Regions from separate parts of the Homo sapiens genome. Here region 2 is linked to region 1. Evidence: fine-mapped expression QTL. A gene starts in region 1. The other region holds a variant in brackets. All regions are shown on one strand. Distances are from middle to middle.

What was found. PIP is the estimated chance that this variant, and not a neighbour inherited with it, causes the effect. A credible set is the group of variants that fine-mapping cannot tell apart.
Region 2: its variant is the best candidate, but not a certain one, in a credible set for the expression of RAB1A in whole blood (INTERVAL, PIP 0.90).

The regions. Positions count from the first base shown.
Region 1 is chr2:65,127,671-65,132,066 of GRCh38, reverse strand. It overlaps RAB1A (RAB1A, member RAS oncogene family), which reads left to right and starts at 1,961. Exons shown (of 6, transcript NM_004161.5): 1 at 1,961-2,174. The coding sequence starts at 2,152. RefSeq lists silencers at 1,463-1,812, 2,313-2,362 and enhancers at 1,665-2,178, 1,923-2,182, 2,179-2,693, 4,217-4,396.
Region 2 is chr2:65,150,600-65,154,995 of GRCh38, reverse strand. No RefSeq gene overlaps it. Among named protein-coding and RNA genes, the nearest start is that of RAB1A, 23 kb to the right of the region's middle. The variant G/A (reference allele first, on the strand shown) is at 2,067.

The DNA of each region.
Region 1 (4,396 bases):
TGTGTGCCTTTACTAGTGACTCAGGTCACAGTTTTCTGAGATTTTTTTTCTCCCCTCAAGACAGAATCTTGCTCTGTCGCCCAGGCTGGAGTGCAGTGGCCTCTCGGCCCACTGTAGCCTCCGCCTCCCGGGTTCAAGCAATTTTCCTGCCTCAGCCTCCCGAGTAGCTGGGATTACAGGCACGCGCCACCATGCCTGGCTAATTTTTGTATTTTTAGTAGAGACAGTGTTTCACCATGTTGGCCAGGCTGGTCTTGAATTCCTGACCTCGTGATCTGTCCGTTTTGGCCTCTCAAATTCCTGAGATTACAGGCATGAGCCACCGAGCCTGGCCAGTTTTCTGAGTTTTTATTTGAAATCAAAATAAGCTTTTTTTTTTTTTAATGGGCTTTAGAGTCCAGGGTAACGAACACTTTTTGGTGCCTATTACTGAACCATTCAGGGTATTCCTGGGGTGGTGACCGTGTTCATTTCAGAAACCAACATGTTCATTTCAGAAACCAAACTCGGGTAACTTTTGATAAGTTCATCAACTAAGGCCCATGGCAGAATTTGAGGGCTAAGGGGTGTAATTAGTGTATGGGTAGAAATAAGTGCCTTCTTTCTATATTTTGGCGTTGTAGGAATTTAAAGTGATTCTGCAGTAAGTCTCAGGAGACAATTTTCTTAGTTCTTAGAAGTTGGAAGATAAACTTTGGACAATGTATTACACTATGCCCTTTGTAATTAAATAACTCAAGATAATGTGTTAAAGTTTAGCGGAGATTTAAATTCCTGAGCTGATTAAAGAGAGCTGTTAAGGCCATAGGTTTTTTAAAAATGAGTTAATATTACTCCCAGAAATTGTAGGCACTATATAGTGATGAATTGCCTATTTTTATTGCTTATTATTTTCCAGTCTTGCAGAATGGCTCAGGGTTAGTAGCAACTAAAAGATAATACATTACAATTCAACCTGAAGGCCGGGACGAAGGTAGGAATTGGATTTTAGGCTGGCTCTGGGCTGTGTCCCTCCCATCCATGGGATGTGGAGCCATTGAAGGTTGTGGGGTCACGATGCAGGTGCTGTCTCAGAAAGATACATCCGACTGTGTGTGCAAATGGGCTGGGGCGGAGAGGAGAGAGAGAGGTAGAGTCCATTTGGAGACTACTGCAATAGCCAGGCTGACGAGTTAAGAGCGGGGCACAGTAAGAATGGGAAGAAATCTAAGAAGAAAATGGTAGTGCGCGGGGCCAACAATGGACGATGACCGAACCCAGGTGGGGATGGGTGAGTGACGAGAAGAACCGCTCCGTGCCGTCCAGGGAGCCCCTTGACTTCCCTTCTGTTCTTAGAGCGGACGTCCTCCTACCAGCCCCCAACCAGCGCCACCAGGGTGGCGCAAGCCTCAAGCTGGTCAGGTCAGCAACAGCCGCAACGGAGGCAGGAGCCGACACGCTCGTACCCCGGCCCCCTCCCCGCCCCCGCACCCCCGGCAGTCCCTCCGGTTTGACCACTCCCCCCGGTCCCTTGCCTCCCCCGACCCCCAGCCTCCGTCGGCCGCCGGCACCACCCTCCGCCCCTCTCCGCCCCCTCCCCCGTGGGGCGCTGACTCGCCCGGCTGCCACGTCTCACTGATGACATCACTAGGGCAGCTCGGCCTTAGCCAATCCGCCAGGGGGAGTCCGAGCGAAGTCCTAGCCAGCGAGTCAGAGGGGAGGGGAGCAGGGAGGGGCCGAGGGTGGGGAGGTGAGGGAGTGGGGAATGGGGCGGGCGACAACCCTTCAGGTACGCATGCCCCAGAGGCGCGGCGCTTGGCGGGAAGCTGAGTCCTGGCCTTGCGTCGCACTGTCTGTCCTCAGCTCGCGTAGCCGCGCTCGCGACTCCCTTTCCCGGCATGCCAGGCGGTGCGGCCGCCCTCTGGGCCGTGTAAAGGCCCCTCGGTCTAAGGCTTCCCTATTTCCTGGTTCGCCGGCGGCCATTTTGGGTGGAAGCGATAGCTGAGTGGCGGCGGCTGCTGATTGTGTTCTAGGGGACGGAGTAGGGGAAGACGTTTGCTCTCCCGGAACAGCCTATCTCATTCCTTTCTTTCGATTACCCGTGGCGCGGAGAGTCAGGGCGGCGGCTGCGGCAGCAAGGGCGGCGGTGGCGGCGGCGGCAGCTGCAGTGACATGTCCAGCATGAATCCCGAATAGTGAGTTCAGGAGAGCACCGGTCGGCTGGGTCCGTGGGCCAGCTTGGGGGATCTTAAAGGGGTCGAGGAGGGTTGGGGCAGAAGTCGGGGCATCGGCTGGGGTGAGGCGAGGGTGATGGGTCAGGAGAGGCTGGCGGCCGGGAGTCGGGCCCCATTGTCTGACGCGGAGGGGCGGCCGCGCGGGGGAGGGGTCGGGCCGGAGGGGTGAGCCGCCCGGGCCTGGACCGGGTCAGGTTAGAGGGCCTGACTGCGGGGCGGGTGCTGAGGAAGCCTGCCGAGGGGCCTGGGGCGGTGTGAAGGGGTATCTTCTCTCGGAGGCAGTGACTTTTGAAGGAGGACTTGTCTCTAAGGGGAGGGGATGGGGTGGGAGAGCCCTTCTAGAGGGCACTGTCAGACCCTGCGCCCGCACTCTGCGGAGCTGTCAGGATCTTCGGGGTAGAAACCAGCTTTACTTGTAAATCCTGAGCTTGTTGGCTCTCTCTCCTTCCATCCTCCCCGCCAGGTTTCAGGTAATATGGATGCTTTTCGGGACTGCGTGGGATTGAGGGGAATGAGTAGATGGTGAGAAGCAACTGAACATTTATTAGTTCTCTTTTTGAGTTGTGTCTTGGAGGAGTTGTTTAAGAGCTCGCCGGGTCCATTGCCCTCCTATAAAAACCTGGGCATTTGTGAGAATTTTGTTTTTTTTTTTTTTAAAGAGGACACCTAAGTCATTTTGTCTTCTGTGGGTCAAGGGAAAAAAAAAAAACTAAAGCCAAGAAATGTCTTTTTGATACTCGCAGATTAAAGGAAGCTTGCTGTCAAGTTGAAAGAGAAACGAACGGGACCTATGATAGATCTGTATGTAGGTTTTGGATTACCTGCTTGGATGCTTGCAGATAGGGAATGAGGTTCCATGACGTGTCATGAAAAGTTAATGCATTTCTTTTTCTTGCTTACTCAAGAAGTCACCACAGCAGATGTGACACACCTGGCACCTTTCCTGGGAACTGGTGTTCACTTCCCTTGGGTAGAGTTTGTTGGGCTCTCCTCAATGGCCCTTTAAAAATTTCCTCTACAGTTTACATGCATGTAAAGTAATGAATAATTGGAAGAGACCGAATTGGTATTCCTTTTCAGTGTCAAAGGCCTTTGAGGGATGGGGGAACATCAGTATTTGTTGTAAAAGTTGAGTTTATTTGCTGGTTTGGTCAATTACTGCTAGACATTTTCCCCTAAAAGGTCCACCCACCAGTTTAGCTGACTGTCATATGTGTGTCACATGGCTCTTGCAAAATGCTTACAAGTTTTGTAATAGTGTGGCTTGAAGCTGAAATCTTTTGCACTAAACAGAAACCGTAGTATTTTATTAGAATTTCATGTTTTAGAAGTTGAGGGTAGTGTTCTTGTAGTGACATTTGCTGTGTTGACAGTTTAAAAAAAATTTTTTTTCAAGGGCTCCAAGGACAAAGTTGGTTTTGCACAGTTGAACGGAGGTGAACTTGAGGTTCTTAATTTAGTAGTTTTCTTGGTAACAATAAAGAACATGGATTTACTGCTTTATCGAGGTTTATAGACCTCTACTGTTCAGGAAATTTTCTGAATTTGCTATATATATGTTTATTAGTGTAAATAAATCTTCAAGATTAGTTGAGAACTTTGACAAGTTACTCAGCCTCTGAATTTTTTTTCCCTTTTGTAAAATAGGATAATTGGAGTCATTATTCCTGTCAGGGTAGTGGTGAAATTCAAATGTATATAAAAGAATTTGAAAAACCGTGTGAGCATTCTTCAGGTGGTATGCATCATTTTCATGAAAGGCATTCTATTAGTACCAGGATTTAGGAATATAATCCTTGCGCTTAAGAAGTTTAGATATAGGCCAGGCGCGGTGGCTCACCTCAGTAATCCCAGCACTTTGGGAGGCCGAGGCGGGCGGATCCCGAGGTCAGGAGATCGAGACCATCCTCGGTAACACGGTGAAACCCCGTCTCTACTAAAAATGCAAAAAAATTAGCCGGGCGTGGTGGTGGGCACCTGTAGTCCCAGCTACTCGAGAGGCTGAGGCAGGAGAATGGCGTGATCCCGGGAGGTGGAGCTTGCAGTGAACCAAGATCTGGCCACTGCACTCCAGCCTGGACGACAGAGCAAGACTCCGTCTCAAAAAAAAAATTATTTATTGTTTTGAGACGGAGTTTCAATCTTGTTGCCCAGGCTGGAGTGCAATGGCGCAAATCTCCTCT
Region 2 (4,396 bases), 23 kb before region 1:
TCTACTAAAAATACAAAAATTAGCCAGTCATGGTGGCGGGCGCCTGTAATCCCAGCTACTCGGGAGGCTGAGGCAAGAGAATCGCTTGAACTGGGGAGGTGGAGGTTGCAGTGAGTCGAGATTATGCCACTGCACTCTAGCCTGGGCAACAGAGCAAGACTCCAGGAAGTGGAGGTTGCAGTTAGCCGAGATTGTGCCACTGCACTCCTGCCTGGGTGACAGAGTGAGATTATCTCTCCAAAACAAAAACAAATAAATAATAAAAGTAAGAATTAAAAAAGAGGCAAAATAAGAGCCTAAAAATGTACTACCAAGGTAAAAGGTAATATCAAAAAGCTACCTGGTGTCTGGCAGGAATGTTGCAAGAGTGTTATTGTATAACAGGGCTTCACAAACTTTCATGTTCCTAGAAATCACTCAGGGATTGTGTTAGGATGCAGATTCTGATTCAATAGGTCTTGGGTAGGCCTGAGAATCTGCATTTCTAATAAGCTCCCAAGTGATGCTGATGCTGCTGGTCCAGGAACCTCAGTTTAATGAGTGAAGTAGAGGACATGTGGACCATGGTATCTGCCTTACTTGATAACCCCTCATAGCTGAAACTGATCATACTCCTCCACGGTCCTCCATTCAGGACTTTTGTGAGGAGTCGAGAGGGGAGCATATTCATTGGCCCCACAGTGGGCTTCTGACTCAAGGAGAACTCTTCCATAGGCTAGGCTTCAAAATGCAAGATGCTGGGGCCTAAGGCAGCTATGACAATTAGCTGGGCCACTTGGACAAGGAATTTGCACGAAAGCACAGGCCAGGCCCCAGAGGTAGTGACTATAACTCCCAAGGGGCCAGATAGGCTTGCTAGTTCCATTCATTCTGTGTGTCCAAAACACTTCCTCCCCTTTTCTTCACATAGTCTGGATACATTCACTCACTCATTTCTTCCTTCAACAAGTATGTATTGAGCATCTACTCTACTGGAGGCACAGTTCTGGGCTCCAGAGGTACAACGGAGAGTAAAATAAGGCCCCTCATCTCAGGAAGTTTGCATTCAGACTTTTCAGACAAATTGGTGCATGAATTATATACACTTCCAGGTGATAAAGAAAGTGAGAGGTGAATGAAAATACTCTTTAATTTTTTCACAATTATACTTTAGAGCAGGGGTCCCCAATCCTCAGGTTGTGGACTGGTACTGGTCTGTGACCTATTAGGAACTGGCCCACACAGCAGGCGATGAGTGGCGGGTGAGCAAGCAAAGCTTCATCTGTATTTACAGTCTGTCCCCATGACTCACATTACCACCTGAGCTCTGCCTCCTGTCAGATCAGTGGTGATATCAGATTCTCATAGGAGCATGAAACCTATTGTGAACTGTGCATGCAAGGGATCTAGACTGCACGTTCCTTATGAGAATCTAATGCCTGATGATCTGTCACTGTCTCCCATCATCCCCATATGGGACTGTCTAGTTGCAGGAAAACAAGCTCAAGGCTCCCACTAATTCTACATTATGGTGACTTGTATGACTATTTCATTATGCATTACAATGTAATATTAATAATAGCAGAAATAAAGTGCACAATACATGTAATGTACTCGAATCATCCCAAATCAATCCACCCCGCCATTCTGGTCCATGAAAAAATTGCTTTCCACGAAACTGGTGACTGGTGCCAAAATGTTGGGGCCTGCTGCTTTAGAGGGCATTTATTTTTAAACAACATTATCTGAAAATGGCGTGGGATAAGTTGTTGGTTCCCACTTTAATGCTGAGCTTTTTTTTTTTTTTTTTGAGACAGGGTCTCGTTCTGTCACCCAGGCTGGAGTGCAGTGGTGCCATCTCGGTTCACTGCAAGCTCCACCTCCTGGGTTCTCGCCATTCTCCTGCCTCAGCCTCCCGAGTAGCTGGGACTACAGGCGCCCGCCACCACACCTGGCTAATTTTTTTTTGTATTTTTTTGTAGAGACGGAGTTTCACTGTGCTAGCCAGGATGGTCTCGATCTCCTGACCTCGTGATCCACCCGCCTCGGTCTCCCAAAGTGCTGGGATTACAGGCATGAGCCACCAC[G/A]CCCGGCCTGAACATTTTTTAAGTACTATTGTAGGATACAAAAGAAAGTCACATACTTATATTGAATGTATGAACTTAAAAGAAAGACTACAAGTCAGCCGGGACAAGTCTAAAATGGAGCAACTAAAAGCATTTGGAATTCTGACATTCCAAACCTGTCCTTGTTTTCCTTTTTTTTTTTTTTTTTTTTTTGAGATGGAGTCTTGCTCTGTCACCCAGGCTGGAGTGCAATGGTGCAATCTCGGCTCACTGCAACCTCAGCCTCCCGGATTCAAATGATTCTCCTGCCTCAGCCTCCTGTGTAGCTGGGATTACAGGCACATGCCACTATGCCTGGCTAATTTTTGTATTTTCAGTAGAGATGGGGTTTTACCATGTTGGCCAGGCTGGTCTTGAACTCCTGACCTCAAGTCATTTGCCCGCCTCGGCCTCCTAAAGTGCTGGTGTTACAGGTATGAGTCACGGCGCCTGGCCTGTCCTTGTTTTCTACATTAGGAAGCAGTAAAGCACAGCAGTTAAGAACATGGGTCTTAGGGTCAAATATACTTTGGTTCTAATCTCAGCCCTGCTTCTTGGGAGCCATGTGGCCTAGGGAAAGTTACTTAACCTTTCTGAGGCTCACTTTCCACATCTGTAAAGTGGAAATAATAATAATAATAATACCACCTTCACAGGATATTATTATAGGGGTTAAATAAAGCTATCTGTGTGTAATTCAATATCTACTGGCTTTTATGAATTGCTGTACTCATAAAGAGACTCTCAGGCTGGGTGCAGTGGTTCATGTCTGTAATCCAAATACTTTGGGAGGCTGAGGCAGGAGGATCAGTTGAGGCCAGGAGTTTGAGACCAGCCTGGTCAACATATCGAGATCCTGTCTACAAAATTTTTTAAAATAAAAGGTTAAAAACCTAAAAAATAAGAGATTCTCTCCTCCTTCCCTTCACAGTGACCCTGCATTACTATTTGGAATAGCCAAAGGGGTGCTTCCTAGTGCCCATCATGACCTGCCCCCTGCCCCCGCCACCCACCTGCGTCTTCTCCAGATTTGGATCCTCTTCATCCACAGTTGCTGTCTGTGGCCTCATGGTGCTACTACCCCCAAGCTGTGGTCTCTGGGTACCCTTAATGCTTCCGGGTCTCAGAGTCCAAGAACAGTGCTGGGACAAACAGAAGTGGGAGAAAGGGGCCTCTTCCTCTTCCTTCTCTGTTATTGACAGGTCTCTCAAAGTCCCTCTTGAATAATTCCATCAACGTCTGCCTCTAACCCTCACAAGTGAGCTCAAAACCAGTCCAAGGAAGGAGGTAGGATCCTTTTGCTCTCTTCCCATTCTCCAGTTCCTTAACTTCAGCTTCTCCCCTTCTCTGAATGAGCTCAGTGAGTTCCTGTGGGAATGACTTTCTCTCCACATTCTCAGTTTCAAAATAAAAACTCCCTTACATATGAATCCATATATGTTAACTGATACTGACTTAGGTGTAGGGGTTCATGGTAGAAGAAGGGGGACTATGCCATCTATAGCCACCAGGCAACAAATGCCCTGACTTATATGCATTTAAATATTGACTGCACTTCATCCCACATGAGTTGCGTGACAACTCTTTTGCAACTTTGAGTAGTATAGAGAATAATTTTGTGCACAATGCACTCTACTAGAGACACACTCAATTTTTTCTGTTACCAACAGAACAAATCAATTTCACAGACATAGTGTCAAACGTTTATTAATAAGATTTTGTGCAAAGGAAAGAAGTGGGGTGCTGCTTGTACCTTGCTTTCCCAGTCGATGAGAAAAACAATATTAATTCTCAACTCCTAATGATCTGAATGATTTTTGATGTTAATGAACTAAATTCAAGGTTGGGACTCAGAAAAAAAGAATAAAGAGGGCCAATTTCTTCTGAATGTCAGAATGAGCTCAGTGAGTTCCCATGGGAATGACTTACCTAAGCAATTGGATTTCAGGGATGACCGAAATCACTGGATTGACTATAGTGCAGTCCAGCAGGACATTTGGAAACATATTAGATAAAATTCCAAGGAACAGTGAGTATGTCCATGGATATCACACAGAAAAGAGCTTTTGGTGAATGAAATATTAAGGTTGCATGTTTTTATGTACAGTATATATTGCTGAATGTTTGATTTGATTTTTTATTGTGGTAAGATACATATAACGTAAATTTATCATTTTAACTAGTAAGTATACAGTTCTGCGGCATTAAGTACTTTCCCATTTTTGTACAAACCATCACTACTATCCATTGCTAGAACTTTTCCATCATCCCAAAGAGAAACTCTATACCCATTAAAAGTTAACTCCCCAGAC